Homo sapiens: one gene and its partners. The protein of the gene in region 4 purifies or fractionates together with the protein of the main gene of each other region. This does not show direct contact. Each region holds a gene or a part of one and is shown on either strand. Other genes may lie near its edges.

Region 1 (7,813 bases), on a different chromosome or scaffold from region 4:
TAAGTTCAATGAGTGCCTTTCAGTTCTTATCTTCCTAGAATTTTTCAGTGGCTTTTGACCTTGTTAACCATTTCTTCCAGAGGCATTTACCAGCCAGAGCTTTTGCCCAATTGCTCAGTCATTCTAAATCATTTAATGTAGCACAAATTCACTTATTTAACAAATATTTATTGAGTGCCTGCTATACGGTAGGCATAGTTTTGAGCACGAAGAATATAGAAATAGACAAAATAAAATCTCCCTTCAGTCTAGTGGAGAGACAACAGATAATAACACTGTGTGTCACATAATTTAAGTGCTAGAAAAATAATAAAGGTTACATCATGCTGATTAGAAGAAGCCTACTCAAAAGAGTTCATACTCCATCTATAGTAAGTTCTACAGCAGGGAAAATTAATCTATAGTAGAAAAAATTAGAATATTGATTGCCTCAGAATCACAACTTTCTAGGGTGATATTAATGTTCTGTATCTCGATAAAGATTTGAGTTACACAGACATACGCATTTGCCAAAATTCATCATAATGGTACATTCAAGACTCGTGTTTTTCTTTCTTTGTCATCTTTATCTAAAAAAATTTTAAAACATATTGAATTCCAGTTAATGATTTGCAAGCTGAAGTGTTGAGGGGCAAAACATATTGATGTCTGCAACTCATTGAAATGCACTAAAAATCAGATGGATGAAGAGATGAAGAGATGAGATAAGGCAAGCACAATAAAGGGTCAATTGTAAAATCTAGTGGGAAGTGTATGGGTTTTCACTGCAAAATTATAATTTTCTGTACATTTGTAAATTTTCAACATAAAATGTTGGGGAAAATAAAGCAGGATACGGAAATGTGGGGAAACTGGCTTGATTTGGACAGGAGACTCAAAAAACACCTCTGGAATGAGGTAACATTTTAACAAAACCTGAGTATATTTGAGAATACATAAAAGAGCACATGCAAAGTTCTTTAGGCAAAATCGTGCTTGGCATAACACTCAAATGTTATCTCCAGGCTAGAATATTCTTCTTCAGTTCTGGAACTGTACATATAACTGCCTCCTTGGTATACGGCATGAGGTACATATATCAACTGGATGCCCTACAAAATACAGAACACTTTCTCATCACTCTCCTACCCTAAGTCCAACATTCTATCATTATTTCAGTCAAATATGCCATGACCCAGTTGCCTAATCGCTATTTAGGGGCGGGGGTGGGGGGATGGGGGGGGGATTCAGAATGTATTTTTAATCTCTCTGAAAAGTACTCAATATTAATACACTGTCCAATTTTTCACTGATGCATACTTTAGATTTTGATACACAGAATTTTTTTATTTCATCTACATATCTCTATATAAAGTGAATTAAAAAATGTGGAGAGTAAAGGGTTAACAAAAGAACTTGAAGTAGCAGTTCTCAACTTGGCTGTACATTACAATCAACAGGATTGAGGCACCCATAGTCCTATCCTGTTGTTAGCTAAATGACTCAGTAAGTTACCAAACAAAAGAAAACACAGGAACTAAGGTAAGATTTTTAAGCAAAGAGGGAAGATGATGTGGAGTTGAAAACTGCTGACTCAAAGGGTTACACAGCCTGGTGCTGTGTATGCCAGAAGAATCCACCTTGGTTCCACTCTTTTTCTATTCTATCTCCCCACAACTTATCAAGACCCATCTTATGTCAACCTAAAATATTAGCATTTACCTCACTTCAGGCTCTCTTAATTTCTCCCCTGGATTAGTGGCTTTTAAACTTTTTTTGACCACAGTTTACACAGTAAGAAGTGTGTTTTATATAAATATCTCTGTGTATACCAGATTGCTATTTATCTACTGATTTTACTTACATACACACACATACACACACACACACACACACAGAAAAACAAACTTTCAGGAAACAATGCTTATTCTTACTACATTTAACATCTTCCAATATTTCCTATTCTCGCCTATATTTCTTTATTTCATTATGTGTTCAAATGCTGGTCATAACCTATTAACGGGTTGCACTCTACAATTTGAAAAACACTAATATAGATTACTGCAAAATTCTAATACAAAGATCATAAGTGGTGACAACAAGTCTGCTGAAGCATTTATCTGGTCTCAACAGAATTAGGTTTATGTACTTACTGTTTTGAACTGGAATGCCGGCTTCCCTCATTTATAAAACAGCCTGGCTGCTATCCCAACTCCTTAACTCCTCAGCTGTCTATACCACTGCAAAAATGATCTTAATAAAAGCAAAGAGGATTATGCCACTCCCCTGCTTTACATTCTTTAATGCTTATTCGTGGTTTTCAGAAAAAACTTCCAAACCCTTCGAAATCACACAAAATTCTTCACAGGGCTGTTTTCTCTTCAGCATTATATATCTTGCTGCCTCAAATGCTGAACTCAAACTATAACAAAATAATAATTCCTGGGTTCAGCATACTCATTTTCATGGGTGCTAGGAATCTGAATGTGCAGTCGGCTCTACTGAAAATGAAATTTTCACCACTCGTGCCTCCACTATTTGCTAACTCCTCCTCTTCTTTCAGAATCCACTGACGTGTCATAGCTTTCGAAAGTATTCTTTGACGTCAACGGCGCAGGTAACTCCTCCCATTCCTTCTCTGCATGTATTCCTTGTCATGGCATCCTAAACTTACCTCTGGCATAGCTTTAATTGTACTGTATGCTGGCTGATTGTCTACTTCTCTTCCCCTCCCCCACCACTTAGACGATGAGGTTCTTGACAGTAAGAACAGCTTCTTATATGTCTTTGCCACAGTGACTGGCACATGAGAGACTAGGATAATTGACTAATTTACCAAACATGGGACACAGGACAAGAGATTTTTGAGAGGGAAAGGAAAGCTAATATAGGGTCTGAAACATTTCCAGGAAACAGAAGAGGGAAAAGTAGTTGAAAATAAGCTCAAAGAAAAGTCTGGCCTGAACATATAGATTTAATAGTTAAAATGATGGAGAGCTGGCCAGGCATGGTGGCTCACACCTGTAATCCCAGCACTTTGGGAAGCAAGGCGGGTGGATCATGAGGTCAGGAGTTCGAGACCAGCCTGACCAACATGGAAAAACCCCGTCTCTACTAAAAATACAAAAATTAGCTGGGCATAGTGGCGGGTGCCTCTAATCCCAGCCACTTGGGAGGCTAAGGCAGCAGACTCACTTGAACCTGGGAGGCGGAAGTTGCAGTGAGCCAAGATCGTGCCATTGCACTCTAGCCTGGCCAACAAGAATGAAACTCTGCTCCAAAATAATAATAATGGAGAGTGCTAGATCTACTGGGGTAAGCACACAAAGGAAGACCAAAGGCTGAAACCGTAATTAAGCAGTGGACAACATCAGACGAGCCAGTAAAGGGCACTGAGAAAAAAAAAAACAATTCCAAAAAAAAAACCAACGTACACTAACATAGTGACTGAGGTAACAAAATGAAGACAATAGTGTAGAGACATCTAGAAGTGCAGTTTCAATAGCTACAACAGTTGACATTCTGATCACTGTAAACTGTGTTGGAAAGCACGTGTCCATATATACTTTCTGACTGTACTGTATATACTGTACACGTTTACAACTGTGAATCACTAAATAAGCTTCTTGAAGGCAGAGACAATTAATCATTAATTAATATTAGTATTATCAGTGCCAAAGGTCAAAGAAATTACCGAATGGAATACACATATAGAATACTCTTTAAAGAAAATCATGGGAAGTTGAGTAATTATAATGAGAAACTTAAAAGAGATTAAGAATTACTAACCAGCAATGAAAAACTGCATTTTTAATAGAGCCAATCAGCAAGGTTTGTGACTCCCCAGCACTCAATATTAGCTGAGGAAAAGAAGAGCTATTTGCTCTCCAGTATGAGGTCTGGAAAACAGATCACCAAGGATGCCAGAGAACTGAGGATATTATATGGAGTATCATGGTCACTCTTACGAAAAGTAGAAATAAACCAAGAATCAAATTAAGAGGGTCTTGCTAATTAACATCAGGTTTTTTCTTTTCCCTTCGTACTACATATATGTCAACCAGATGAGCAATTGTTCTTAGTTTCAAAAAGTACTTGTTTTGTAGCAAGTAAATAAATAGTATGATTCAGATCCCAACTTAGATTTCAAAGTTCTGAACAATGAAAACATTTTATGCACACATTCAATAATCGTATGTTAACAGAGTTGCTACTTAAATGCAAGTCAGACATTAAAAAGCTTAACATACCCTGATGGCAAGGTTTCTGTGTTGGCATTCCCAGACTGCTGCCGTACAGGATCCATACACCCATCTGGCTGTCTTGATTTGGCTGCTTCAAAAGCAGAACTACTTCTAGAATTAGAGGTGTCAGGCTCTAATATACTTCTAGCTTCAGATTCCAATTCTGCACTGGTAGAAGGAATACATTCATTGTTTTCTGAGGAAGTCAGTATTTCTTGAACTGGAGGATCTTCAACAGTAGTACTAGTGCAATTTGGAGACAAGGCATTTTCTTCAGACACTACTGGAGTACCCGTGACAGACGCATTATCAGTTGGTGCAAATGAGGATGATTCTCCATTAACTGAGAAGGGAAAATTAATAAAATCATCTATCAAGTAATGATAAAGCAATCAATTACCTAATCAATTGACTACACTTATTCAGAGCCTAATCCAGACTAAGCAACTACAATCCATTCTCCAAACAGCAGACAAAGTAATATTTTCAAAATATGTAACATAAAATAAAATGGAGATTTTATTTTTGTTGCTCAAAATTTCAGGGATGAATATGTAAATGATAAAAATTTAAGTATGTATAATAATAACAACCTTAAGGAGAGAGGAACCAGCATTAAGATAACCAGTGTTTTCCCTCCAAATCATCAATTCTGAGAGGAAGTCTGTATGGGCCATCTAAACTCTGAAAAATGATCCCTTTCAATCGCCCTTCCCTTGTGTAAGTGGTAGCTAACATCAAACGAACTGTTTTGCCAATAGTAGGAACTGTATGATGGCATCAGTTCTTAAGATAGTACTATAGGGGTTGCAAGAACCCATTCTACACTTTTTCAAGAAATAACCCAGTACTGCAATCCAGTGACACAGTTTTCCTAATTTTCATTTTAAGTGTGATTGATCTAGTTCGACTACGTGTCACTATAAAAATGAGTCAAATTAAAACTGTAAGGGTGAATAGATTACAGAACAAAACCTACTGGAAGACCATATATCAAAGTTCTAATGGAAATGGCAGAGGGAGACATAATCACAAATTTTAGGAGAATTAATGACAAAAAGAAAACACTCAGATTAAATGCTACTGGACATGGCCAAAGAAGTACCTAAAGATGTAAGAAAGAATGGTAACAAAAGAGCTTAGAATTCATTCCAGATACAGAAAAAAAAAAAAAAAGTAAGTAGAAGAAAATGAATTTTGGTCAAAAGACCCAAAAAAAAGATCAGAATTTCCTAATGCACCTGATAAGACTCCAGAACTTACTGAAAATATAGTATCTAAGTCCTCATCCTAGACTTACTGAATCTCTAGGGGAAATCTCTAGGGAAGAACCTGGGGATCTGCATTTTTAACAAATGCATATGATTTTTTTACTCAGGAAAGCTGGAGAAACCATGAAATATACCTTTCCAAGTGTTATAAAGAAAACATGTTTAATATAAATAACATTAGAAATACCACGTACAATTTCATATCAATGAGTTTGAAATTAGCTAAACTAACTCAAGGGAAAGAAAAAAAGACAAATCAGAGCAGCAATGGAAAAGGTGATGAAAGTTCTAATATCATCCCTCCTAAAGGCTCCAGGCTCAGAAAGGTTTTTGAGAAAATTCTATGAAGCCTTTATTGGATAGATCATTCTTATGTTATTTAAGGTGTTATAACACATTAGGGGAGAAAAAGTGAAAAGGAGTGTCCTAACTTATTCTGGGAAGGTAATGTAAACTTTCAAAGCTGAAACTGAACAACAACAGAACAAGAAGACTATAGACTAACATCATGTATAAATTCAAGGATGATTTGATATTAGGAAACTACATTAGAAAATCTACTGTTAGCAGATTAAAGGATAAACGTCATATGATTATTTTCAAAACAAACCAAAAGCATTCAAGAAAATCTTGGTAAAATGCCTGATAAGAAGAATCATGAAAAATTAAGAAGTAATCTAGATTATCTATCACAAACCTACAGTCATTAATATACAATAATTGTAAAACATTTTAAGAACTTTTTTTTTTGAGAAGGTGTCTCGCTCTGTGGCCCAGACTGGAGTGCAGTGGCACAATCACAGCTCACTGCAACCTCCACCTCCCGGGTTCAAACGGTTCTCCTTCCTCAGCCCCCCAGTAGCCGGGATTACAGGCACCCGCCACCACGCCTGGTTAGTTTTCCTATTTTTTGGTAGAGATGGGCTTTCACCTTGTTGGCCAGGCCAGTCTTGAACTCCTGACCTCAAATGATCCACCCAACTTGGCCTCCCAAAGTTCTGGGATTACAGGCATGAGCCACTGTGCCCAGCCTATTGTAAGAACTTCTATTAAGATCAAGAATAAAGTAAAATCAGGGCTGGGCACAGTGGCTCACGCCTGTAATCCCAGCACTTTGGGAGGCCGAGGCGGGTGGATCACGAGGTCAGGAGTTTGAGACCACCCTGACCAACACGGTGAAACCCTGTCTCTACCAAAAAATAGGAAAATTAGCTGGGTGTGGTGGTTGTGTGCCTGTAATCCCAGCTACTCAGGAGGCTGAGGCAGAAGTATTGCTTGAATCCGGGAGGTAGAGGTTGCAGTGAGCCAGGATCACGCCACTGTACTCCAACCTGGGCAAAAGAGCAAGACTCCGTCTGAAGAAAAAAAAAAAAAAAAAAAAAAGAAAGAAAAAGAAAAAGAATAAATTAAAATCAGCAACAAAACAAGGAAGATCACAATTACCAAGCCAATTCAGTATTGATTATATTTGACAATCCATTAAGAAAAGTCATAACAACATTGGAAAGAATATGGTAAAACTCATTTGTAGTGAAAATGACAAATAGATTATTTATTTAGAATACACAAGAAAATTTTTTTAAAAACCCCATTAGAACCAATTAATTGGAGCTAAAACATTTCAGCAAAATGAACAGACACAAGATCAACAACAAGATTACTTCAAGACCTATCCGAAGAAAAAAAATTTTTTTTTTTTTGAGACAGAGTCTTGCTCTGTCACCCAGGTTGGAGTGCAGTAGCGCGATCTCAGCTCACTGAAACCTCAGCACCCCAGGTTCAAGCAATTCTCCTGCCCCAGCCTCCCAAGTAGCAGGGATTATAGGCATGCGTCACCACACCCGGCTAAATTTTTTTGCATTTTTAGGATTTCATTATGTTGCCCAGGCTGGACTCGAACTCCTGACCTCAAGTGATTCCCCAGCCTGGGCCTCCCAAAATGCTGGGATTACAGGCGTAAGCCACTGCACAACCAGCGTGAAGAAAACACTTTAAAAAACATTACTAAAAAGAATGAATACAGACATAAAATATCTCTCAATGGGAAGATTCAGTATTGTTAAAATAATAATAAACAATAAACAACTCTCCTTGAAATGCAAATGTTGGTGAGATGCAAAGCACTAGGAATTCTCATTCACTGCAGTGGGAATGCAGGAGTACAGCCACTTTGGAAGACAGTTTGGCCGTTTGTTACAAAAGTAAACATACTTTAAAAATACAACCCACCAGTCTCACTCCTCAATCCAACTGAATTGAAGACTTATATTCACGTAAGAGCCTGCACACAAATGTATATAGCAATGTTTTTCACAATTG
Region 2 (7,864 bases), on a different chromosome or scaffold from region 4:
CATTCGTGGTGGGAGGGGTACGCGGCACAGCCGGCTTCAAGCTCTTTTTCCACCCATAACTTTTTTTGATGATCCCTCTTTCTCTTTCGGCCAATCTTCTCTTGACTCCTTTCAATCATGACTTTTAACATTAACATCTATTAGGGGCCGGCCATGTGCTCATAATTTCACAGACGTCTCATGCAACCTTGGAAGTAGGCACACACTATCATTATCTCCATTTTACAGATGAGGCGACTGAGGTTGGGGAGGTACTAACATGCCCAAGGCCACGCAGAGAGCAAATGATTTGAACTCCGGCACCCAAGCTCTTGATCACTAAGCTAAGATAGTGTCCCCTCATGTGTGGGGGTGGAGGGGCACATGTGTGGCGTGTGTGCATGCATGGGTGCCCATGGTGTTTCCACCTGGCATTTTTCCTCCTTCCATCGTTTCCTTTCAAGCAACTGCATTTTCTCTCCCCTCCCTGTCTTACTCCTTTGGTTCTCCCCTTATGTCTGCTGCTCGTCCAGGTATGAGAGGACCTCATCACGGTCACTCTCATGTGTGCTTTAGCTGGGAAGAGCTGACTCTGGCCATGACTCTGGCCTGGCTGGCCTAGCTCCGGGATGGGGAAGAGCAAAGGGAAGGGGAGTGACAGCGTCTGGGAGGGGACAGCAGACGTGGGTGGGGCATTCTCCAGGGGCATTTGGTCTCCTGCTTTCCAATCCCTTCCTCCAGCCCAGTTCCTGGCACCCCTCATTTTTCTAAATGTCACCTCCTTCTCTTCTTTCTCCCCTCTTTTTCTCCTCCCCTTGCCCAGGAGCTAGTGGTGAGGGCATCTTGTGCCTGCAAAAGCAGGTACTTTTATTTATAGCTTCCAGAGGATCCAGCCCACACCTTCCTGTCAATTAAGCTTGCTCCAGAGCCTGGCACCTCTGTATTAACCTGTGAGTTGCCTGGATGGCAAGTACAGGGTGAAGGCTAAAGGTGATGGCCCTTACCTGCTCCAGGTGTCACTCAAGTCCTGTTTCATCTTAGCCTCCCACCCCACAGCCAAATGCCGGTGGCTTTGTGCATGGGGAATCCTATGGTAAATAAGCATGGCGGTGCTACCAGGCCCACCCCAAAATCAGGCAGATGGGATTGAGTGTCTGGAAACAACCCTACCATAATAAACCAGTTTGTAATTCATGGGGACAGGTGTGGAGCAGTGGGGAGTTACCATCTCTTGGGAACCTGGTGAGAAGCTCCCAGGGAGACACACATGTGCCCCTCACACACACACACGCACACACACACACGAACACAGACACACTCCTACCCAAGAGGCCCTGAGCGGCACCCACCCACACGCTCGGAGGCAGCCCACACTCGTCCCATGAGTAGGCACCTATTCCTGCCTCTCCTTGGAGTCCTCCTAGAAATAGGGGCAGCTGTGTTTGGCGGTAGGGGTCTCCAGGACCTGGGTGTCTGCTTGTCCCTCCCTCCCTACGGTTCTGGGAAAGCTGAGATGACATCCCCCCGCTAGCTTGGGAGGGTGGCAGTGAGTGAGCTGGGGTGGACAGAGGGGTGGGTGTGAACCCAAGTTCTCTACACCCAGAAGACTGGGGAAGGGCAGGGTGTGAGGGACAGGTTGAGGCAACACCCGAGAAACACCCACACTCCTGTGTGGATCCACCCCAAGACAGGCATGTACACACCCACACACAGGCAGGCACGCACGCGCATACACACATGCGCCAAGAGTGCCCACCCACCCGCGTCCCACACCTCCGCAGATGTCCTCACTCCCACACACCCATCTCCACATTCAGGTGCCTGCTGCCACCTTCCACATTCTAAGAATGCCCCACAGTTTTCCCTCTTCAATCTGTCACCTCCATGCACACCCAGACATGTTCATGTCCACAGGCTCACGCACACACACGTCCACGCACACCGCCTCACAAGCCATATGTGGGGAAAAGAGGATGCCACAGGCACCAACATGCATGTGTGCCACCTCCACAAGAAGGCACGCAACCCACACGCCTGCCGGCACACACATGTGTGTTCATACACACAGCAGCCCCCGCCCGAAGTCTGGTATTCTCTCTCGAATCATCTCCAGGCTCAAAGACAGACTTTGAAAATGTGTTTGCCTCTGGCCACACTCTGCCAGCCCTGAGCCTTCATGCCAACAGGTTTGTGCACCTACGTGGCTCTGCCCACAGACAATGGTTTCTGCCCCTTCTTCTCTTTACCCACTCCATCCTGCTCTGGGTCTCACCTCCCCATATAGAAAGCCCCTGTCTGCATACACTCCCACACACATGAAAAGGGACATGGTTACCCCTAAATATACTGCCTCATAGTGTCCCCACCCACGCACACCCACAGGCTACTCAAATAAGTCCCCCACACACATGTACCTCACGTGTGCCAGAAAGATATGTTTCTAGACATGCCTCACACCATTCAAAACCCACACATGAGCATGACTGCGGACAGACGGACCTATCTGCGCCAGCAAGCCTCCAGCCAACTCGCGAGCGCGCACACACACACGCCGCGCACACCGGTGCCCCTTCCCCATGCCCATTCAAACAGCCACCCTGCCACAGGGAATGCTTCCCCCACCCTGCTGTCCCTGTTGGCATCGCTGACTGCAGCAGAACGGTCACGGGGTGACTAACTGTGGTGCCCCAGAGACTGGATTCAGCCATTAACCACTTTGCCAAAGGCCTGGCCGGGGGGGGGGAGAGGGGACAAGGTCGTCAGGCCTGGCAGTCCAGGTGGGCACCCTGGGTGGTGGCAGGACCCTAGAGCCCCCAGATCCCGGCTACTCAGGATCAACAGCAGCAGGTTCCAGGGAGGAAGGGTACTCACCTGGCTCCACTGGGCTCTGCAGAGGAAAAGCTCGCAGGGAGGACAGGGAGAGACCTCTGCGTGGATGAGCTCCCCGGCAGGGGACAGCAGCCGGACGCCTGGGTCACGGGCAGTGGCGTGCGCTTGCTCCTCTCCCGGCTGCCAAGGAGGCTGCTTCCATGCCCCGCAGCCAGCTCCTGTCTGGCTGTGCAGCGCGTCGCTGCTGCCCCTGGTGAGACGATGTTCCCAGCTGAGCAGCGCAAGAAGAGAGGCAAGAGCGAAATCAAAGCAGCGTGGAGGAGAGAGAGGCAGAGAAGGGAGAAAGAACGAGAGAGCCAGACCGAATCTGCCTCCACCAATGGGATCAGCGGCTGCGCAGCGTCAGGTGATAATAAGCAGGCTTGGTCCCTGCTCGCCGGGCTGGTGGGAGGGGGAAAGGGCAGAGGGTCTCCCAGGGAGCTACACAGATGTCCTCAGGGACAGCAACACACGCCGCCTTTCCCCCATTCTTCCAGGACAAGCTGCCCTCAGAAGTCCCTCCAACACACCCCCTACTTGGAAATCTCTGACTTGAATGCAGCCCCCAAACTTTAGGATGCTGGGAGAGGGGTGGAGCTTAGCCAAGGGCTTGGGCCCCAAAGCAAAGACTCTGATTGGGGGAAGGGGAGGGAGGCTGTAGAGGGGAAAGGTCCAGATGGGGGGTGTGAAGCTGGGGTGGCTGTCTTCAGTCCGGAGCCTCTCCTTGGGGCCTTTTGGTGAACTGTGGTTCCATTTTCTTACCAACTCTAGAGAGAGATGGCAGACCTGCAGCTCAGGGATCCCTGTGGGTCTGGCAAGAACCCTCTGGCAGCTTGGGGGTCCACAGGAAAAGGGGCTGGGAGAGAGGCTGTGGCACAGTGCAGGGTGCACAGGGGTAAGAAAATGGGGGTGGGAGAACACACCAAGCTCTGAGTGTCCTCAGCCCACCCCACTCTCTGAGCACAAAGGAAGCCGGCCCTGGGCATCTTGGGGAGAGAATGTAATTCTGCTCTCACGGCAGCAGGAGGCTGTTCTGCCATCAAGAAGCAGACTCCGTGGAGGCCATCGGGAAGAACATCCAAGGAAATGTGAGTCCAGCAGCAAGCAGGGACAGAGGGTTGCGCAGTGGTGAAAAGCACAGGCTCACAGTCAGATGGATGTGCTGAGAATCCCTGCTCTACTGCTACCCAGCTGGGGGACCTTGGACAAGCCACTCAACCTCTCTTCATCTGTCAAGTGGGATCACACAGGTTTATTGTCATCATGGAATGAAATAATTAGGTAAATCGCCCAGCCCTGGGCCTGGCACATCAGAAGTGCCAGTCACATGTCAGAACTGTTCTTGTTCCCATCATATCGACAGCATCTTCCTGCAAGGAGCCCACAGTCCTCTACGGGAGAGAAGATGGCCATTTAGAGGATGCAATTAGAGAATGAGGAGCACACAACTAAATCGTAGGGCACAGATACTCATTCAGAGAAAGAACAATGGGCGGCTCCAGGGCACGTGCAGGGTGCAGGCCAGAGGAGGCTGTGGAAGCAGGAGTGCGGCTGGGGTGGGGAGGATTGGCACGGGGGCAGCTGACACCAGGCAGGCCCAGGGTGAGGTCTTGGTGAGCAGGAGAAGGTGTGAGCTGAGCCTAAGAAACACTCACCAAGAGGGAGTTGAGGCGGCAGGCCTCAGTGCAAAAGTCAGAGGAGGTAACAGCAGCAGAAAGTGAGAGTTCACAGAATGCAAAGACAAGCAGAAGCCAACCCTGCCTGAAACGGCTGTGAGAACCTCAGTGAGCCTGGCCAGGTCCTGAACTGCCGAATGTGGGGTGGTGCGTGGCACTGAGGCAGGACTAAGCACCCCCTTGGCCAAGCATGACTACGTCCTGCTCCGACATACCCACGCCGAGCTGGTGAGCTCAGAAGAGATGCAAAACGTAACCTCCTGGTGATGGCCAGCACATGACATCTGGACTACAATTCTGTCCCAGGCCGGGCGCAGTGGCTCACAAGAATCCGAACACTTTGGGAGACTGAGGCAGGCAGATCACCTGAGATCAGGAGTTCGAGACCAGCCTAGCTAACATGGCGAAACCCCATCTCTACTAAAAATATAAAAATTAGCTGGGTGTGGTGGTGGGCGCCTGTAATCCCAGCTACTTGGGAGGCTGAGGCACAAGAATCGCTTGAACCCGGGAGGTGGAGGTTGCAGTGAGCCAAGATTGCACCACTGCACTCCAGCCTGAGTGACAGAGTGAGATTGTGCCTCGAAAAATAAATAAATAAATAAATAATAAAATCCTGTCCCTAGGACCACACAGAGGGGCAGTGCAAGGAAAAAGGCAGGTTCTCTGTGACTTGGTTTCCCCTTCTGCCAAAGGAAAACTAGCCCCAGCACCATCCCTGCCTCCCACCTTCTCGGGATGTCATGAGGAGACTGCACGAGGTCCTGTGGCCCAAGCATGAGCAATAGCCATCTGAGCGCCCCTTTGTGGAGCTGCGTGCCGGCGACAGGTGAAGGCACAGCCCTTTAGGAGCTTCTGCCTCTTCTTGCCTCAGAGGACTTCTCTACAGATCACGAGAGGAAACACGTGGTAAGAGCAAACCATAGTGTGCCAAGTATAACTCACTCCCTATGAAACCAAACAACCGCCAAGATGCACTTCTGCTGCATTTTTATTTTTCATAACTTTTTATGACACAAGTAGCACATGATCATTGTAGAGAGACGAGCACATTTCATTTTAAAATTTAAGAGGGAATTTAAATCTCTCATTTTCCCACCATGCAGAAATACACATTAAATACATATAAAGAATTTTTTTAATTAATTTTTTTCGAGACAGGGTCTTGCTCTGTCACCCCGGCTGGAGTGCAGTGGCGCAAACTTGGCTCACTGCAACCTCTGCCTCCCTGGCTTAAGTAATCCTCCCACCTCAGTCCCCTGAATAGCTGAGAGTATAGGCGCACACCACCACACCTGGCTATTTTTTTTATTTTTTGTAGAGATGGGGTCTCACTGTGTTGCCCAGGCTGGTCCCAAACTCCTAAATGCAAGCAATCCACCCGCCTTGGCCTTCCAAAGTAGTTGGGATTACACAGGTGCGAGCCACCACACCCAGCCAATACTTGTATAGAATTTATTAACAAAAATAGAATGAAAGAATGCTGTTTTGTAACCTGCTTTTTTCACTTACCAATATCTTTTCTGTTCATCATATAACCTTTTTTTTTTTTTTTTTTTTTTTTTGAGACAGAGTCTCGCTCTGTTGTTCTGTCTCCCAGAACCTGGGAGGTGGAGGTTGCAGTGAGCCAAGATCACGCCACTGTACTCCAGCCTGGGTGACAGGGTGAGACTCCATCTCAACAACAAATTTTTTTTTTTTTTTTTTTTTTTTTTTTGTAGAGACAGGCTCTCACTATGTTGGTCAGGCTGATCTCCAACTCCTGGTCTCCAGTGATCCTCCTGCCTCGGCCTCTCAAAGTGCTAGGATTACAGGTGTGAGCCACCATGCCCAGCTGATCAACTCCATTTTAAAAAGGTGGAGGGTGGGAAAGAGGACTCAGGCCATAAGTAGTAAAACTAGTTAGTATTCAAATTCAGGTCTGTCTGAGTACCAAGGCCAGATTCCTCGTGGTAGAAAGATGCATAGCAAATATAGAGTCTGATGTAATAGAGAATGAGACTATAAGCAAAACATATTTACAGTCTTAATATTGCTTATGCACTTTATAGATTTAAAATGTTTATGTGTATTTCCCTATGGCTGAACTCAGTGTGGGGATCCGGTGAGCCAATGAATGCACATACATCAGGTAGTCCGTGGAAACCACTTTTGTCCTTTACATGTGTTTACAATGACAAGAGTGGGCCATGAGTATTTATAAGAACTACATGGATTTCTCAGTGCTTATTTCCTTTTCTTTTCGATATTATGTTTAGACAACCTATAACCTTCACTGGTCATCTATTTTAATGAAGAGCATTAACCTAATTCTAAAAACATTTACTAAACTAAAGAAAAAGTATTTTATGGCTGGGTGCAGTGGCTCATACCTGTAATCTCAGCTCTTTAGGAGTCTGAAGTGGGCAGATCACTTGAACCCAGGAGTTCGAGACCAGTCTGGGCAACATGGTGAAACCCCGTCTTCACAAAGAGTACAAAAATTAGCTGGGCATGGTGGCATGGGCCTATAGTCCCAACTACTCTGGAGGCTGAGGCAGCAGGATTGCTTGAGCCTAGGATTTGGAGGCTGCAGTGAGGCATGATCGCTTCACTGCACTCCAGTCTGGGTGACAAAGCGAGAACCTGTCTCAAAGATATATATATTTTAGATTTTGTAGAAAACTTAAATATTTAACCACTTTAAGACATGGGAAAATGCTGAATTATATTAAAGGACTCAGACAAGCTACAGAAGAGACACTGAGAGAATGTTGGAGGGATAAAAGGAACTTCAAGAGAAAAAGATCAAGAACAATGATGAAAGAGAATCGTAAGTAGAAGGACTCATATAGAACCTCAGTACTGGAATAGTCAGTAAGTTATACCCAAAGTGGAAGAACATGATGTAGGAAATACGGAACACCACTGCGCACTGCTTGGCAAGGTACCAGGACAAGGCCAGGCGCGGTAGCTCACGCCTGTAATCTCAGGACTTAGGGAGGTTGAGGCAGCCGAATCGTCTGAGGTAGGAGTTCGAGACCAGCCTGGCCAGCATGGCAAAACCCTGTGTCTACTAAAAATACAAAAAGTAGCCAGGCGTGGTGGCGCACGCCTGTAGTCACAGCTACTCAGGAGGCTGAGGCAGGAGAATCACTTGATCCCGGGAGGTGGAGGTTGCAGTGAGCCAAGATCGTGTCCCTGAACTCTAGCCTTAGCAACAGAGCAAGACTGCCAAAAAGAAAAAAAAGAAAAAGAAAAAGAAAGAAATACCAGAAGAGTGTGACATATTGAATACAAGCGATCACCATGATGAAGCGCCTTCCCTCCATGCACCCAAAATTTGCCACACTGACTCTATT
Region 3 (7,733 bases), on a different chromosome or scaffold from region 4:
CATTGATTGATAAAATAATCAACCTGTCTTTTGTCCAACAATATGACAGATGTCCATTTTACAATAAATGTTCACTTGAATTAACCCCTCTATTATATCACTGTGCTCTAGGTTTATATGTAAACAGAAACTTTAGTGATTATGTCTCAACAGCAACACTCTCATAACAAACTCTACAAATGAGTAATATTTCAAAGTAAATTGTTTAACTCCAACAAAAGCAGGAAATAACAGAAAAATATTCAACCAGAGAAGAACAACTAAAATAAGTGTAAATTATATGATAAACATAAACTACTTCCCTCTAAAACAGAAAAGGGAATAATAGAGGAAATTAGCAGTTTATCTGCCCTCTGGTGGCAATGAAATCAACTGCAGCATTTACTAAAGTAACGCATAATAAAATGTCCCTGTTATGAAATCAGATGTTGTTCCTGTGCCAACATGTCTGTAATAAAGATCCTGATTGTTGCATGACAAACGTCAAGACTGCTGGACTTTTCCCCCCATACTGAATTTTTATATAGACTATTTTACAAATAAAGTTGTATACTTTTTTCTGTTTCACCTTGCTTTTTTTATATATTCAGTAAGCTAACCATTTAATTACAATATTTTTTTCATAAAACTACATGTAAATGATGTCCAGGAAAGAAGCTACTTCTGTTTATAAAAGTCTTCGAAAATTTGGCAAGGAATTTAAAACCATTCTTTTAAAAATCAATCCTATCAATATATGGGTTTCTAGAGTATATTTCCCATCAGAAATATTCAACTAGCTTAAAATACCAGTACACTGATGTTGAACATTTTAAGTATTTTATATTTCCCACAGCAAGGGCTTTTAATTATATGGCCAATCTTACTTTGGGATGAATTTCATCCTCAATTTCTGAACTTCTTGGCATAGCAAATGTGTGTGTATTGTGTGTGTGTGTGTGTGTGTGTGTGTGTGTGTATACATATATTCTTTTTTCAGTAACGTTACTGGAACAGGTTTATAAAAAGATAAACATTTGCTGGCATTTATTTTTTTTTCCTTTACTGCAAATGCATTATTTATTCCTAGTGCCAAAGAAGTTTTTAAATAAACAACTTGGGATGCACATTGGCACACACATCCTTTTAACCTCGTTTGTGGTGGAGTTAATTGTTTTTATTAAGCATCTATTCATACCGTGAATAAGTACATGAAAATTACTGTTGCAATTTTTAAATAACTGTGTCCTTTCCTGGAAGGCTAAAAGTGTTATTTTTTCGGACCAATGAAACGTATCAGAGAAATAAACAAAAGGCATAGTCTACTGTCATAAATCATACACAGTCAAGAACAACCTATGTCCATTAATGCAGAACAATTAAATGTGACAAAGACAAGTCAACACCCAAGAAATCTGCATTTTGTTCTCAGCTTTAAAAGTGTTGTCATCCTATTGCCTCCCTGCACATACACCCCAACACACACACCCCTTCAACCATAAATAAGAGCGCAGAGTCAGTATCTGTGCTTTATCTAGAACAGTTTACACCAGGGACAGGCGAAGTGTTGTGACTGTCTTCTAAGTCGCGGCTTGGTAAATTTCACTCAAGGGTTTCCTTCAAGATCTTCAAGATTCACCTTGCCTGGAATCCCCAGGTGTCCCCCAACCTTCCATCTGTGACTCTCTAGTTGACTGTTGAGGACGCATGCATACTTTCCGGGCAATCATTTAAATTACACACACACACACACACACACACACACACACACACACACACACACCAGAAAAGAACAAATTGACAAATTGATTATCCTAGGGAGAAAGTTTTCGTTTTCTTTTCTTTTCCCTCCAAGTTTTTTCTTTTTTCTTTTTCTCTCGTTTCACCTCCTCTCGAAGTCCACCCTAGTTCACCAATTTCTGCCAAGATCTCTTTCTGCCTGTGTCTTCACTTTCTTCACTGAAAGGCAGAAATGGGGAGTAGGCACCCAGTTCGCGGTGGGCAGGGTTCCAGGAGGCAGCTCCCGCTCGGCGATAGCCCCCGGGGCGCAACTCCCCGCAGGACGCGCACCTGCCAGGACAGCCACTAAGAGGATGCGGAGGTTGGGGGCCCTCTCGGGGACAAAATCAGGGCACTCCAAGGAACTCTCTGCGCGTTCAGGCCTGTCTGTGAAGCTGGCAGGCGGAGGACAATGGGAGCAGGGGTAGGTCTCCAGAGGCGAGCCCGCCTCCACCTTTCCCACCTGCTCCCCACCTCTGCGCCGGCCGCATTTACCCCGCCCCCCTTCCAGCGCCCGCTTGGCCCAGGTCACTAGACGGAGCTAGTGGGGATCGCCAGGGGAAGGAAGGTGCTGCCACAGGGAATTTTCTCGTGCAGAGGGGAGACCTGCAATCCCTGGCTTTCACAACGTCCCCCACCCACCCCATACCACACACGCTTAGTTTAACCAGCAGCGAGGAAGGAGGAGGAGCCGGAGAGCACACAGCCTGGAGATGCCAGGTCCTAGGAGATGTATCCACGGAAGAAGCTTTGCTCTCACACTGAAGCCCTCCCTGGGCTACTTTGGGGAGACAGTACCACCCCCTGCCGCCCAGGTGAAGTAAGCCCGAAAGCCTCAAGAAAACCCCTAGTCCCCGGCGTCCTTCTCTTGATAACCCTCTTTCCCCATTTGGGAAGCCTAAGTTTAGCCGAAAAGCAACTGCAATAAGTTTCCCAAGGGCAGATAGGTGATGTTGGGGGGAGAGGGTAGGGAGCACGAGAGTGCCAGAGAGGTCTTCAGCTGCGCACAAAATCAGCAAGCTAAAGTGCATCTTACTTACCAAGGATTTGGTCTCCGGGTTTCCCATCGGCGAACTGAAACTGGTCCGTGAAGAAGTGGCAAAGTAACATAACTCCTGCAGCGGCCAGGTCGGCCTTCGGGAACCTCGCCATGCCGCCGCCGCCACCTCCCTACCCCACCCGCCAGTCCTTCGCCGGTGCTCGGGGGCTCCCGATGCAATAGGCACGACCGGGCCAAACGCTGCGGATCGGTCTCGGTAGGACCCGGAGGCCTTTGTAAATGTCGCTGCGATTTCACAGTAGGGAACCGAGAAGAGGAAGAAGCGAACGCGAGTAGGAGCGCAGCGCTCTTCGGACCTCTGAGGCTCTCTTTGCAACTTGCCACACTCGCAGCCCTCACCCGACACTGAACAACAACCGCGGGGAGGAGAGGCCACTTGCAGCCGAGGCTCGCAAACTGTCGGTTCCACTCGGGCAGCGCCAACCCGGTGCCCGCGGACGGTGACTTCCGAGCCCCAGCGATGCGCTCCACTGGGTTCAAAACAGATCTAATTCCACAGCCAGCGCCGCTGCCTGCCCCAGATCCACTAGGGCTGGTCGGCTCTGCAGGAACTTTCCTCTGTCTAGGGATGGCCCCGGCAGGAGGTTTAGGTTTGCGGGAAGGAGGTTGATGACGAAACCCTCCCGACAAGTTTTGCTTCTTTTCTTCGCCCGACGCAGGGCGCGCGTCCTTTCTCGCAGCCGGAGGAATGGGCAGCTCCAAAGAGCTGAGCCCTGGGAAGGTTAGGGCTGCAGCAGTCTGAGGTCCGAAGCCAGGAAAAAAATGTGTTTAAAAAAAAAAAAAAAAAAGAGGAAGAAGAAAGGAAAAGGGTGGAGTGGGAGGGAGTCACGCTGGAACCTATCGGGAGAGGGTTCCTCCGGGCTCAGGAGGAGGTGGCCCCAAGCCCCCGCGGAGCCCCAGGAGTTTGGTGGCGGAGGAGGCGCTGCCGTCGCCACGCTCCCCCGCGCTCCTTCTCCACACTTTGAGGAGGGAAGGCAGCTCGCAATTTGCCAGATCTGCCGCCGCACCCTCCTCCCTCCTCCCTCCGCCCTCCCCTTCGCTCCTCCAGGCTTCTCCCACCTTCCTCCCTGAAACCGGCAGCCCGCACAGACCTGTCCAATGGCTGCACTTTCCTCGGGGCTGGCTGAGGAGTCGCGGCCAACAGATTAAGCCGGGGGAGCCTAGCGAAGGGGAGGGAGAGGGCCACTCCAGCCCCGTGCGCCCCAGGCAGCCGGCTGCCCCAGAGCGCGGGGAGAGGGGACAGGCCGGGGAGCTATCGGGGGAGCGCGGGGCGGTACCTCCGCGCCGCCGGGGCGCCATCCTCGCAGCCTGCTCGCACGCCCTGGGCAGCTCCGCCAACTGCGCCCCACACCCACCTGGCTCCCGGGCCGCCTTCGCGCCCGACTGCGGGGGGCGATCGCGCCCCGCCCCGACCCTGGCGGGGTCTCCCTGGGCACGAAAGGGTTAACCACAGCTCGCCCCTTCGCGGAGGCTGGTTCTGGTAGTGGCTAGGGAGTGGAGAAAGCAAACCAGAGCCGGTTCGGTTACCGACTCTGCGAAGCCCCCTCGACCCCAGCCCAGCGCGGGAGGGTGGCGGAAGGTGGTGCACCGCAGCGTGGTCCCCGCCGCTGCCGCCGCGGCTTTGCAAAGTGTCAGCGGGGGCGAAAGCGAGAGTTTAAAGGAACAGGAGGCCCATTGAATTTCCTACCGGAGCTTTCAGGGGCTCTGGCTCCCCAGTTTGTTTTTGTTTTTTCAGCTCGGGGATCTGTTTCCGCGTTAACCCTTGCCGGCCCTCTCGTTAGTTGATATCTTATTTTGCATACAGTTAATCATTTTTGAAAGGGATAAATACAAGGAAAAGAAGCAAAGCGCTATTGGTTAAAAGTACAGGATCTAGAGCCCGGACAGCCTGGGCTGGAATTTCACCTCCCCCGCAATGAGCAGTTTATCTCCTAGCCTCAGTTATCCATCCATCAAATGGAGAGAATTAGAGTAACGCCCTTATAAGGTGGTTGCAATGGATTGGATGAGTTAACTGTATATTTAATAAATATAGAACATTGCCTACCGCAAAGTACATGGCTTTGTTTAAGTGTTTACTGAAGCAAAAGTGAGAGAAGACGACTTCAATCACATAATAAATGTGCATGTGTTCTAAGTTCAAGGTCCTTTCCACTCCAAGCTCTGAAGAGTCTATGGATGCTGTCAATAGATGTCTCGGCTTGCCACAAAACCCACTGGAAGTGGATCCGGATAATCAATCTACCTTTGCAAATGTGATGCTCAAAGGACGGCTCTCTCATGGGAAACAAGAAAGGTTTCCCTTAATCCAATACTCAATTTGCTCTTTATTTCCAAACAACAGATATACACGTATAAACACAAACATATATCATGCCTATACTCTTTATTATGCCAGGACCCTGGCTCTTTCCTGAGCTTTCCTCCCATAGGTTGATTTCTACTTAGGTAACTGGGTTTTTCTATTTCTGCTTAACTAGGAGTGTTTAAGTTCTATGTAATATTACATCCGAATTTGAGTACCCGGATATATACCTGCTTAAAATCAAGTTTGAAAACTGAGTCTTCTCATCAAAACCTGATTGTGCGGTTGACCCTTGAACAACAGGGGTTTGAACTGCGAGGATCCGCTTTTGCATGGATTTTCTTCCTCCTCTGCCACCCCTAACAGAGCAAGACTAACCCCTCCTCTTCCTCCGCTTCAGCCCACTCAATGTGAAGACGATGAGGATGAAAGCCTTTCTGATGATCCACTTCCACTTAATAAACAGTAAGTATATTTATCTTCCTTATGATTTTCTTAACATTTTCTTTTCTCTAGCTTACTTTATTTTAAGAATACAGTATGTAATATGTAGAACATACCAAATATGTGTTAATCAACTGTTTTTATATTATCAGTAATGCTTCTAATCAACAGTAGGGTATTAGCAGTTAAGTTTATGAGGAGTCGAAATTATACATTAATTTTCTACTGTGTGGGGGTCCGTCCCCCTGACCCCCATACTGTTCAAGGGTCAACTATAGTTTAATTGATGCCGATTCTTTTTGAGGATCATAAATCCATGCGGAAAGCGTCCCAAAATATTCTGCACAACTCCAGCTCCCATCATATCTAAAATAATGGGGAATCCAGCGGAAACCATTTCAAGAAAGCACCTCTTTTTTCAGACCGAGTTATTTCTCCTTCTTTCACAGTAGAAAAATAGGTGTTTCCTCCTCTGAGAACAAGCAAATCTCCACCTCTCCTTGCTATCATTTTCTTTCTTTTTTCCTTTATTATTTTATGTGCGTATTCGCAGGGTTCATTTTTCTTGTTACTTGCGGTCATCAATGCTTTGACCACCTGATTGAAACTATATACTTTTTGTAAGTAGAAATTTGATGTCAAAATTTGAAAGGGGGTAAATGGTCATTCAGGGTCAGTCAGGAAGGACTTTTATATGTTTGGTTATGTCACTGATGCTGCTGAATTGTATTGGTTTACTCCTATCTTAATTTTATTCTGAAGAGCTATACACATAGTAAATGCGGAAGTAAGGGAGAAGATACAAGTAAGCAAAACTCAATCATGCTTGATGAGATTTGCTGTTCAGAAATAAAGAAGAAAGAGCAACATTGTATAACAATAAACTCAAGCTCTGATCATTTGCCTTAAATGTTGATGAATGATTATTTTTTTAAAGTATATTCTGCCTTTACACTGTAGCAAGGAACGAATAAATAAAATGTATGTAGGACAGTATGTTCAGAGTGAAATGGAAAAAGTAGATTACTCATAATTCTGGCTAAACTAGGGTATTTTGTGGCCTAAATTATTTGGGTTTGCCATACACATTTCACCACAGTAGAAGTGTCTCTTTCCATTTTGTAGTAACAAAGTAAGTATTTGTGGAAGATGTTACATCTTCCATCTGACATGAGGGAGAGACGTAGTAACGGCTGTTTGTATTCACTATAGACATAGGAAAGGAATTGGTGGTTCTTTCACCTACTCTTAATTTTAGCTAATCTCTCAAGGAACAAATGAATCAGGAACCACAAATGAATAGCACTTAGATTCTTTGTCCATGACAAAGATCTGGAATTCATACGACACTCTCTCCTTTAAAATAATATATCAGAATCATTCTCAACAACATAGAACTTTGGGCAAAGATTAGCATGTGAGCTATCACTGTGTGGATTTCAAACCTGTTTACAACCCTTATCTCTACCAATCTTCAGAGAGATTTTTACACACTCCAAGTGCAATACTATCTATAGAAATGTACTTACAATTAATCACCTCGTATCATCTCTGTCTTTAACAATGTTGTGTTTCCTAGGACCTGTCCAAAATTGGAACTTGGCTAACAGGATGCTGAAGAAAACAGCATGCTCACTTGGAAATGAGATTCTATACATGCTGTAGAATACTTGGCATTTATTATAATCTTTTCTTAACTATTCAGGAAATAGTTTTTGTCCATTTTAACAGGATTTGTTAAAACTTTCTACAATTGCTGTCAGATAAAGGGAAATTGCTATTAGTGAAATGCTTTTATTCAGTCCAAATATTATGACCTTTCCTCTAGGTCTCAGCATTTCCTCTCCCTCCTCATTTGGTAAGGCTAATTTTTTGACCTCTGGTATGCAATTACAAGACTCATTTGTTCGTCTTGGCTGATCTGCTCTCAGAATAAACTGTAATTCTATTGTACTGTTGATGGATATTCCAGCTTTTTGTTCTTTATAGTTTTAAGGTGAAAATTTTATCAATTATGTGTTTGAATTGAATAAACATCTTTTTAAAACTCACTTAACAGCTAACATAACTCTTTTTAACTGGAGCATTTAACATACAAGAATACTTTATGCCTTTTAGCCTCATATCAATACTACATGTACTATCTAGATGAAATTAACAATATAG
Region 4 (7,813 bases):
ACAGCCACGAACATCATGGACAGGCAGTGTCTGGATTTCACTCTGCATTGCTGCCATGTGAACCGGGGGCTCCCTCCTGGTTTTATGTCTTTACCTCTCCTCTTAGTCTGGGCAAGATAAACATTAACCAAACTCAGACGAAAAACAAGACTCTAGAGCCACTGGTTCAAAAGGAAGAGAGGCTTATGCACATGTTTTTGCCTGAACTTTACACACTAGGACTTAATTTAATTTGCCACCCCCGTCCCAAACTTCATGCATTCTCTGAGCTTCCCAGGCCTCAGCATTGGTGGTTGCACACCACGTGAGGTTGATACACCAGCAACCCAGGGCCATGCTCGCTTAGACTAAGGTGTGAATGGTACTCGCTGAACCCTGTATCCAGGACTGTGCAGGCCACAGCCCGGGAACCTCAGAGCTGGTCCTGTAGACACCAGTGTGCTGGGGAGGCAGGGCTGACTCTTCTCAGAGCCCCAGTGCAGCTGTACCATCCCCTGATGAGGGACTCATGCTCCCCACCACCCCATGTACTTTCTTACCATTTGCCTTCTATTCTCCACCAAGTTGATGCCAATAATTCCTAAGAAAGATCCAAAGCCGAGCTAAAACCAAAGGAAGAACGAGAGAGAAACACTCATTAACGTGCCTAGAAGCTTAACACTGACATTTAAAGCAAATAATCCCGCCCTCAAAGGCATTTTATCCAGGGACGAAGGCCAGACATCCCTACCTCAAGAACCTCAACCACTGAGCAGCAGGTGCGTCTGCTGGCGTTGGGCAGGCATCTCTGCAACATCACCTGTCCTGTCTTCTCTGCTCAGAGGTTTTTAATGATGCATCTGTTTGGCTTGTGACTCTGGGGTAAGAGAAGTTCCCACTCCTCCCCCAGAGACAACATCTTTTCGGGAACCCAGGGCCACCAAGCACCACCATCTGTCCCGTCTTCTCCAGGCCTGAGATGCCCCTGAGCATGGCTCCTGGGTAAGGTATTAGGGAACTACAGCCGTGTTTCAAAAGAAGGGTTGCCAGGCACAAGGGCCACCAGTGACCCCTGCTCAGACGGCCTAACTCTGGTTGCTGCTTCGGGAGAGTGAGCAGGGCAGACCGTTAGCAGGGAGGTGCCAGGTGTGGGGAAAGGGCACCTGAGCCAGGCACAGAGGGGGCACCTGGGCCAGGCACAGAGGGGGCCCCGGGCTGCAGCACAGGCCACCAGGGGTCCGGCAGAGCCCCCTTACTCCACAGGAAGCCCCAGCTCTGGGCAGAAAATGATACTGGGATGTCGGGAAATAGACATGGGACTGTGCTGTCTTAGAACAGAGGCCACCGGCCGGGCATCCGCACCCTCCACCCAGGGCCCGTCCTGGCAGGTGACGCCCACCTGGCAGAGGAATTTTTAAAATCAGTGTGAAGAACATGCATTTCAGCAACACCCACCGAAAATCTGGCTCAGAGCAGCCAACATGGACCTGCCAACGACCGTGCCGAGGCCTAAGACGGCTCTTGCTCCCACGCAGGTGCGCCGGGCCGGTCGCACTTCCCAGTGAGTGTCTGTTGGAAGGGGTGGCCCGCCCGGCACAGCCTTGGAGTTGCTGGGGCCGTGGTGTCAAGTTTAATGCACTGGAAACCGGACTTCTTTATGTAAATAGTTTTGCCTTTTCTGTAATTGTCTGTGTGTCTGTGGTGATAGACACGTACACATGTGGCTTTCACCAACGGTTTGAGAATTCTCCAGGGATAACAGGAATATTTCTTCATGTGCTGAGCTTCAAAATACTGCAGTTCAACTCCACACGTCAAAAATATCAAAATTTCACTTCGATATACATGTATTAAAATACATCTGTTACACTACGTTTTATTTTTTGGGGATTTGAAAAAAACCACACCTTTCTTGAAAATGTGGAGATGTTTTCACGTTCTGGCCGCTTCTTCTGAGATCAGCTTCTTAAGTCTCTACATTGGCAGAAAGTCTCCACAGAAGTGACTCTTAGCCACGTTTCCTTGAAGCTGCTTTTATTTGTTGTCTCCCTAGTTTGCTTTCAGAACTGTCTGTACTACAGGCCATTTCAATCTGGTCAGCACAGCATTAATTCATTGCCCAGAAGGTAGATTCTTTACAGAGCATAGCTTGGGCATTAGCCATTGATGTTTTTCATTATGTTATTCTGAGGCAGCTCTTAAATAAGCTTGAGGACAAACCAAAAAAAACAACCACTCAAGGCTGATCTTGATGTTTCGCAAATCACTTGGAGGTCCCTCCTCACAGCCACTTGCCCTCTGGGCTCCCCTTTCTGCCCAGGAAGCAGAAAAGCCCCTCACATGAGGCCAAGGTCCCCACACCATTGGCCTCTTGCAATTTTACTGATAAAGCTTTTTCTGCATAGATACTATTTGTATATGTTTATTCATAAACTATACACAGGTAGATAGTGTAGATGTCTAAGGCACACCCTAAGATATAAACAAAGGAAAATATAATGGTGAAATAAACAGTATTTGTAAAATATTTCTAAATACTTAGGGCCAAAAATCTTTCATCTTTGCTGATTGTCATCAATATTATTACCAATCTTGGTAGTACTTTAGGTGAGAGTAATGAGATTGAAGAAGCCGCATTTTAAAATCTTGCTTTAGCACTTTATGACGTAGCAACCAGGCTCTGGGGCATGTGAAGGGCATCGCAGCTGATCCAAGCCATTCCAACAGAGGTTCACTGTGCAGAATGCAGGCACTTAGGAGAATTCTTTTACTAACGACAGAGGATGTAATTTCATAGTTCAAAAAACCTTGATACTTTTGAATCTGGGTGACCAATTCTTGCCAATTAGGTTACCATCAATTTACCTCGCCGCCTTACTGTTCAAAATCTGGCCTGACGGGTGGATGAGGTCAGCACCACCACCTTCTGGCCGTTCCCACGCGATCACGTCACTAATACGATCTTTGACCCACGGCTTCTTGGTAGGAATCGTTTAAAGTTACTTTCCCCTTCCATGGGCTATGGTGGTCGACCTGGTCCCTCAGGGTAAAATCCTTCCAGGATGCTTGGGGAGGCTCTGTCCGGCCTTTTTGGACATCCTGGGCTCCTGGCCCCTCCTCCACCTTGGACATTTCCTGTTGCCGGGCTCTGGCCCCCCTCCTGCCCTCTGGTCACCCTGTGACCACATCGGGCCAACCCAGACAATGGAGGGCACCTGGCCCTATTTTGAGATCAACTTGGACCTCAACCCCAATTCCCCTCTGCCTTGGACCTGCCACTGTCCCAGGTCCTGGGGATTGGGAAGTGCATGTCTGTGGGGGCCATAACCCTGCCGACCACAAGCACTGATCGAAGCCTCCCCACCTTCAGCCCCAGCCCTGTGAGCTGGCGTGGACTCCACCCTGAGAGAGCCACACACCACCCTGCCCTCCCCGGCCCAGGCCGCCCGCCCGGCGCACTCACAATGATCCCTGGGTAGTAGCCCCCAACGGTCACATTCTCCGTCCTGGTGGTGGCAGCCAGCCCGACGGTGACTATGAGGACGGACACCAGCAGCAGAGACCCCACAAACCAGAGCGACGTCTTCTTCCTCCTCGAAAGCCCTTCTGTGGGGAGGAAGGCGAGGACCTGTCAGTGAGGGCTCAGGCTCAGGAGGGCGTCAGGCCAGCAGGCTCTGGGCCGTGCTCCGTTACCCAGGGGTCCTGGGATGCACTATCCCCGCCTGCCTCCAGGCCCACCTCAGGGGACCACCCCCAACCTCCATTAGATAACAGAATAAAATCTCTGGACCATAAGCCACTATACTGGATAGCCTGGTATTTGCGGCCAAACCTAATTCTAACTGTCACAGAACTCAAGAAAGCAAACTAGAAAGGACTCCTTCCTATTGGCTGCCTCTTCCTCTATCTGACTTTCTCCCCCTGGTGTCCCCAGGAGGACAGGAGCATCTTTTGTTTACTGTTTTATCATTACCATTCGCTCACAGACACACCCTCTCTATCCGCCTATCCCAGCCACACCCAGTGGGGGAGGGGGCTGCCACCAGGGGAGGGGCAGGGAGAGAGGAACGCACACAGCAGCCATCCAGCTGTGCCATCTGTTTTGCTTTATTTTTTGAAAACTGAATCATCTTGATCCCTGTGTGACTCCAAACAAAATAGGGGATTTAAAAAACCATGGTAAGGTCTTCCTACTCCAAGAGTTTGAAAATCAACATTTGTGTGTGTGCACATGTGTAAGTGCGTGTGTGCAGGGAAAGCAGACCGCACACTGGAGAGCCGCTGGCAGCGATGACGGCCGTGCAGACATTGTCCACACCCTAGAAGGTCCGCATCTGAAGATTTACACTTCTGCAATCCCATCAGCAGAGCTCAATGGCAAGGCAAGGTTATCGCACCCAAGGAAGGGATTGTTACATCCTCAGAAATGAGTTTCACAAAACTATAAATCAATGTGCAGATGCAGAATTGCTCTGCTGATCTGAGAGAGTCATTTTTATCCAGCTGACCCAGCAAGGGCGTGGCCTTGGTCACGGCCTTCCTTCAAGGCCCTCTTGGACTCAGCACAGCCCCCGGCACAGCACCCTGCCTGCCTCTTGACCCTTGCAAAGATACACTTGTCCCAAGAATCTCATCCTAAATCGCTTTTTACCTTCCACCTTGGAGGGGACCAGATCACTCCATTCGCCAATGTAATAAACCATCGGCTCCCACCAGCCAGCCAGGCTGCCCCCGTCTTGGACCCACTGCACCGAGGCGGCCAGTGGCACTGTCCTTAGTGTTATACTCCAGGCCGCAGGCAGTGGTTTCAGCCTCTCCCTGGTTGCCCCATCTCCTGCCTCCTTAGAGGCAGGCTTGTTGCAGCATCCACAGGGCCTTTGTACCTGCTGTCTCCAGCTAGACACTCGCAGCACTCCCTGAAGGCCTCTCTTACATGTTGCTGCATAGACACACTGAGTATAGTAGCCACACTCACCCCTGTGCTCTCCACAGTTGCCCCTTCACCCCTGCCCCTGCAGAGCATCCTCGCATGTGAGAGGCAGAGGGGACACCAGACAGACAGAGGCACACGCTGCAGGCATTGGAAAAGGCCAAGTTCAGTGGAGAAAACTTAAGCAGGGCTGGGGACAGGGCGCTCCGGATGTGTCACCCACAGGCAGCGGGCAGAGGGCAGAGCCTTCCCTGAGGGGCCTGGTGATGGCACAGTGCACCCCTCAGCCCAGCACCACTGGTGTGGAGTGAGGCCCTCCTTCTGAAAGCCACCCTCCTGAGACACCAGAGGCCGCAGCCCGGTGCGGGCCAGGGAGCAATCCCCACACCCAGCCTCAGGAACACGCCCTGGGGTTCGGGGTCCCTGCAGCCAGGGCCACACCTGCGCCCTCCGGGTCCCCAAGGCAGCTTCTGCAGGGGTCACACTGAATAAACCTAGAGGGGTGACAAGCAGGTGGGTGCAGGGGCGGGCACAGCACCAGGAGCCCCAAGGCCACACTGGCGGCCCAGGACCTGGCACCTACACATCCATCACCCAGTGTCTGTTAAAGTCATGCTCCCCCAGCCCCAACCCGTGTCCCCGTGTCCCACGCCCACGCCCCGGCCCATCCCACCCCAGGCCACACCTGCCTTCCTGTGTGCATGGAGCACGTCCTTTCTTGTCTTTGGATGGGGAGGACACTCCCCTCAAGTGACCGAGGCCCAGGCACCCGACACCTGCCCTGCATGAGGGGATGGGCGCTGCACCTGCCAGCCGGAACACACGGCCCAAGGCCTCCTCCAGCTCCGCCTCTCAGTCCCTCGCTTCTCAGCCTCAGGCTTCCTTCCTCCTCCCCACCTCTAACTCGCACAGTTCTTCCCTGTGTCTCTCATGGTATTTCTGAACTAAAAGCCAACCCTCGTTGGACTGGAAAAGGTTGGGAAGATGATAACGACATTCTTACAAGGAAAAGGGAGACAGTGGGTATATGTTGGAAAGTGTGATTTTTACGCTGCTCAGAAGAGCAGAGTGATTTTTTGTAGAACACTCATAAAGTACTGAAAAATGCAAAAGGGAAAATAAAATTCATGGTAACCTAAATTAACAAGTAGGCATAAAATCTTATGGTCTTTTTTCAATGCACTATGTACTTTTTAAAACATTTTTTTCTTAAATTAGGACCACAATGCTTTATAGTAATTTTTTCACTGAAATCTTGCAATTTGTTAAAAACCTGAAAGGTTATATGTTCACGGTCGTTTGCCCGAGAGACAGGAGCGATGGCGACAGATCCCGGGTCTCTGTCGGGAAGTCGAGGTGAGAAACGGCAAACCCACGCTGGGAGCAAGTGGGCAAGAGGAAGGCAGGCACCTCCCGTGGGTGAAACTCCGTTCTGGTTGATTCGTTTTAGAAAGGTAGGTAAACTTTTTAAAAATGGACACAAAATTTAAAAATATATGCAATTCCACATTTTGGAAGTTAATGAAACAGCTATTGTGGAATTACACAAAATAATCATATTGATGATAATAACACCATCTATGGATTGGGCTGTGTGTCGATTTTCAGAGCAGCCTAACTTCCTTATCTCATTTGATCATGACCAGAGGCTCCAGGTCACCCTCACCAGCCTCCATGTAACACCTGCCAATGCAGCCAAATGCTAGGTGCCTTCAACTCACACAATTCCCGCTTCAGCCTTTCCTGCTTTTCCTTAGGCTCCCATTCCAATCTTTTGACTGTTTAAATGTATTTTAAGAGCAATACAATTTCTAAAACTAAATTTTATGGGACTAAGTATTTGAGAAAATTATCAGACAAACGCTGTCCTTCTCAAAGGATTTTGTTGTGCGATTTTTCTTAATTAAATGCACTGCATGCATATAATATTATGCTCAAAATAGTTAACCAGATGACTCAGCGTCTGCTTCGACCCACAGGTAGAACCTTCCGTGGGGCTCCTGTCCCAGCCTCCTGTGGGCGTCCGTCTGTCAGGAACCCTGTGACTGGATTCTGGTTCTTAAAGCTGGAAGCTCTGCTCGGTTCCTTGGCATGAAGAGTGGGGGCCCAGCAAGACCCACTGGGCTAACTGACCTTGTCAAGTCAATCGGTAACATGCTGACTTGTTAATTACTATGCGAAGAGTTAGACACATCTCCTCTGAAACCACGTAAATCCTCCTACAAACCATTTTCAACCTAACTTTGCTATGTTTACCCCTCTTTCCTGAGTCTAACTTCCCCCCCATCTGCTACAAAATAAAAAGCAGAAGGTATGAGCCACCCTTTTATCAGCATTCCTATCACAGATTCCTAGATTATACAAGTCTAGAAAGACAGTAGAACTTACATGGGGCACTGGGAGCAATGGTTGCAAATCATCTCATTCAATTACACAATGGTGATATTTTGACTCCAGATATAATAGAGATAACAAAAAGAAGACTCCCAACCTTAAACACATTCTATAAATACATGACACAGCATAAAAATGAGAAAAAAAATAAACTCAAGAAAAGAAGGTGGGATATCTTTATAATTAGCATAAGAGATAATTATAAGGTCAGATTTTCAAGAGAAAGGGGCTTTCACTTAGGAGAAAGATAATTAAAATCACCTGAATAATTTCCTTGATTTTTTTTTTTTTCCTGTCCCGGAAATACTGTTATTACACGCACTGTGAAAATTAAAGTGCTCCTAAGTGCCCCAACTATTAATTAAAATATCTACCAATAGGTTTCTATTGCAGAGGCAGCTTACAGGGACTGGACCCAAACCATTCTGGGTCTGTCCAGACCCATTGTGTGGTCTTGGGCGGCCATTTAATCTCCCTGAGCCTGGGAGAAGAGAACCCTATGAGAGCCAA

Evidence for each region.
Region 1: the proteins of TMEM255B (region 4) and WWP1 purify together in Homo sapiens (affinity purification with mass spectrometry; 3 studies listed by BioGRID and IntAct, with this or other methods). This does not show direct contact.
Region 2: the proteins of TMEM255B (region 4) and PHYHIP purify together in Homo sapiens (affinity purification with mass spectrometry; 3 studies listed by BioGRID and IntAct, with this or other methods). This does not show direct contact.
Region 3: the proteins of TMEM255B (region 4) and PLXDC2 purify together in Homo sapiens (affinity purification with mass spectrometry; 2 studies listed by BioGRID and IntAct, with this or other methods). This does not show direct contact.

Annotation. Positions count from the first base shown.
Region 1 is NC_000008.11:86,408,291-86,416,103, reverse strand, and holds part of WWP1 (NEDD4-like E3 ubiquitin-protein ligase WWP1), read right to left. Parts: intron 4,567-7,813; coding exon 4,230-4,566; intron 1-4,229. UniProt on the Homo sapiens protein: E3 ubiquitin-protein ligase which accepts ubiquitin from an E2 ubiquitin-conjugating enzyme in the form of a thioester and then directly transfers the ubiquitin to targeted substrates.
Region 2 is NC_000008.11:22,228,946-22,236,809, forward strand, and holds the start of PHYHIP (phytanoyl-CoA hydroxylase-interacting protein), read right to left. Parts: upstream 3,155-7,864; 5' UTR 2,851-3,154; intron 1-2,850. UniProt on the Homo sapiens protein: Its interaction with PHYH suggests a role in the development of the central system.
Region 3 is NC_000010.11:19,812,257-19,819,989, reverse strand, and holds the start of PLXDC2 (plexin domain-containing protein 2 isoform 1 precursor), read right to left. Parts: upstream 3,559-7,733; 5' UTR 2,911-3,558; coding exon 2,799-2,910; intron 1-2,798. UniProt on the Homo sapiens protein: May play a role in tumor angiogenesis.
Region 4 is NC_000013.11:113,761,887-113,769,699, reverse strand, and holds part of TMEM255B (transmembrane protein 255B), read right to left. Parts: intron 3,586-7,813; coding exon 3,443-3,585; intron 603-3,442; coding exon 540-602; intron 1-539.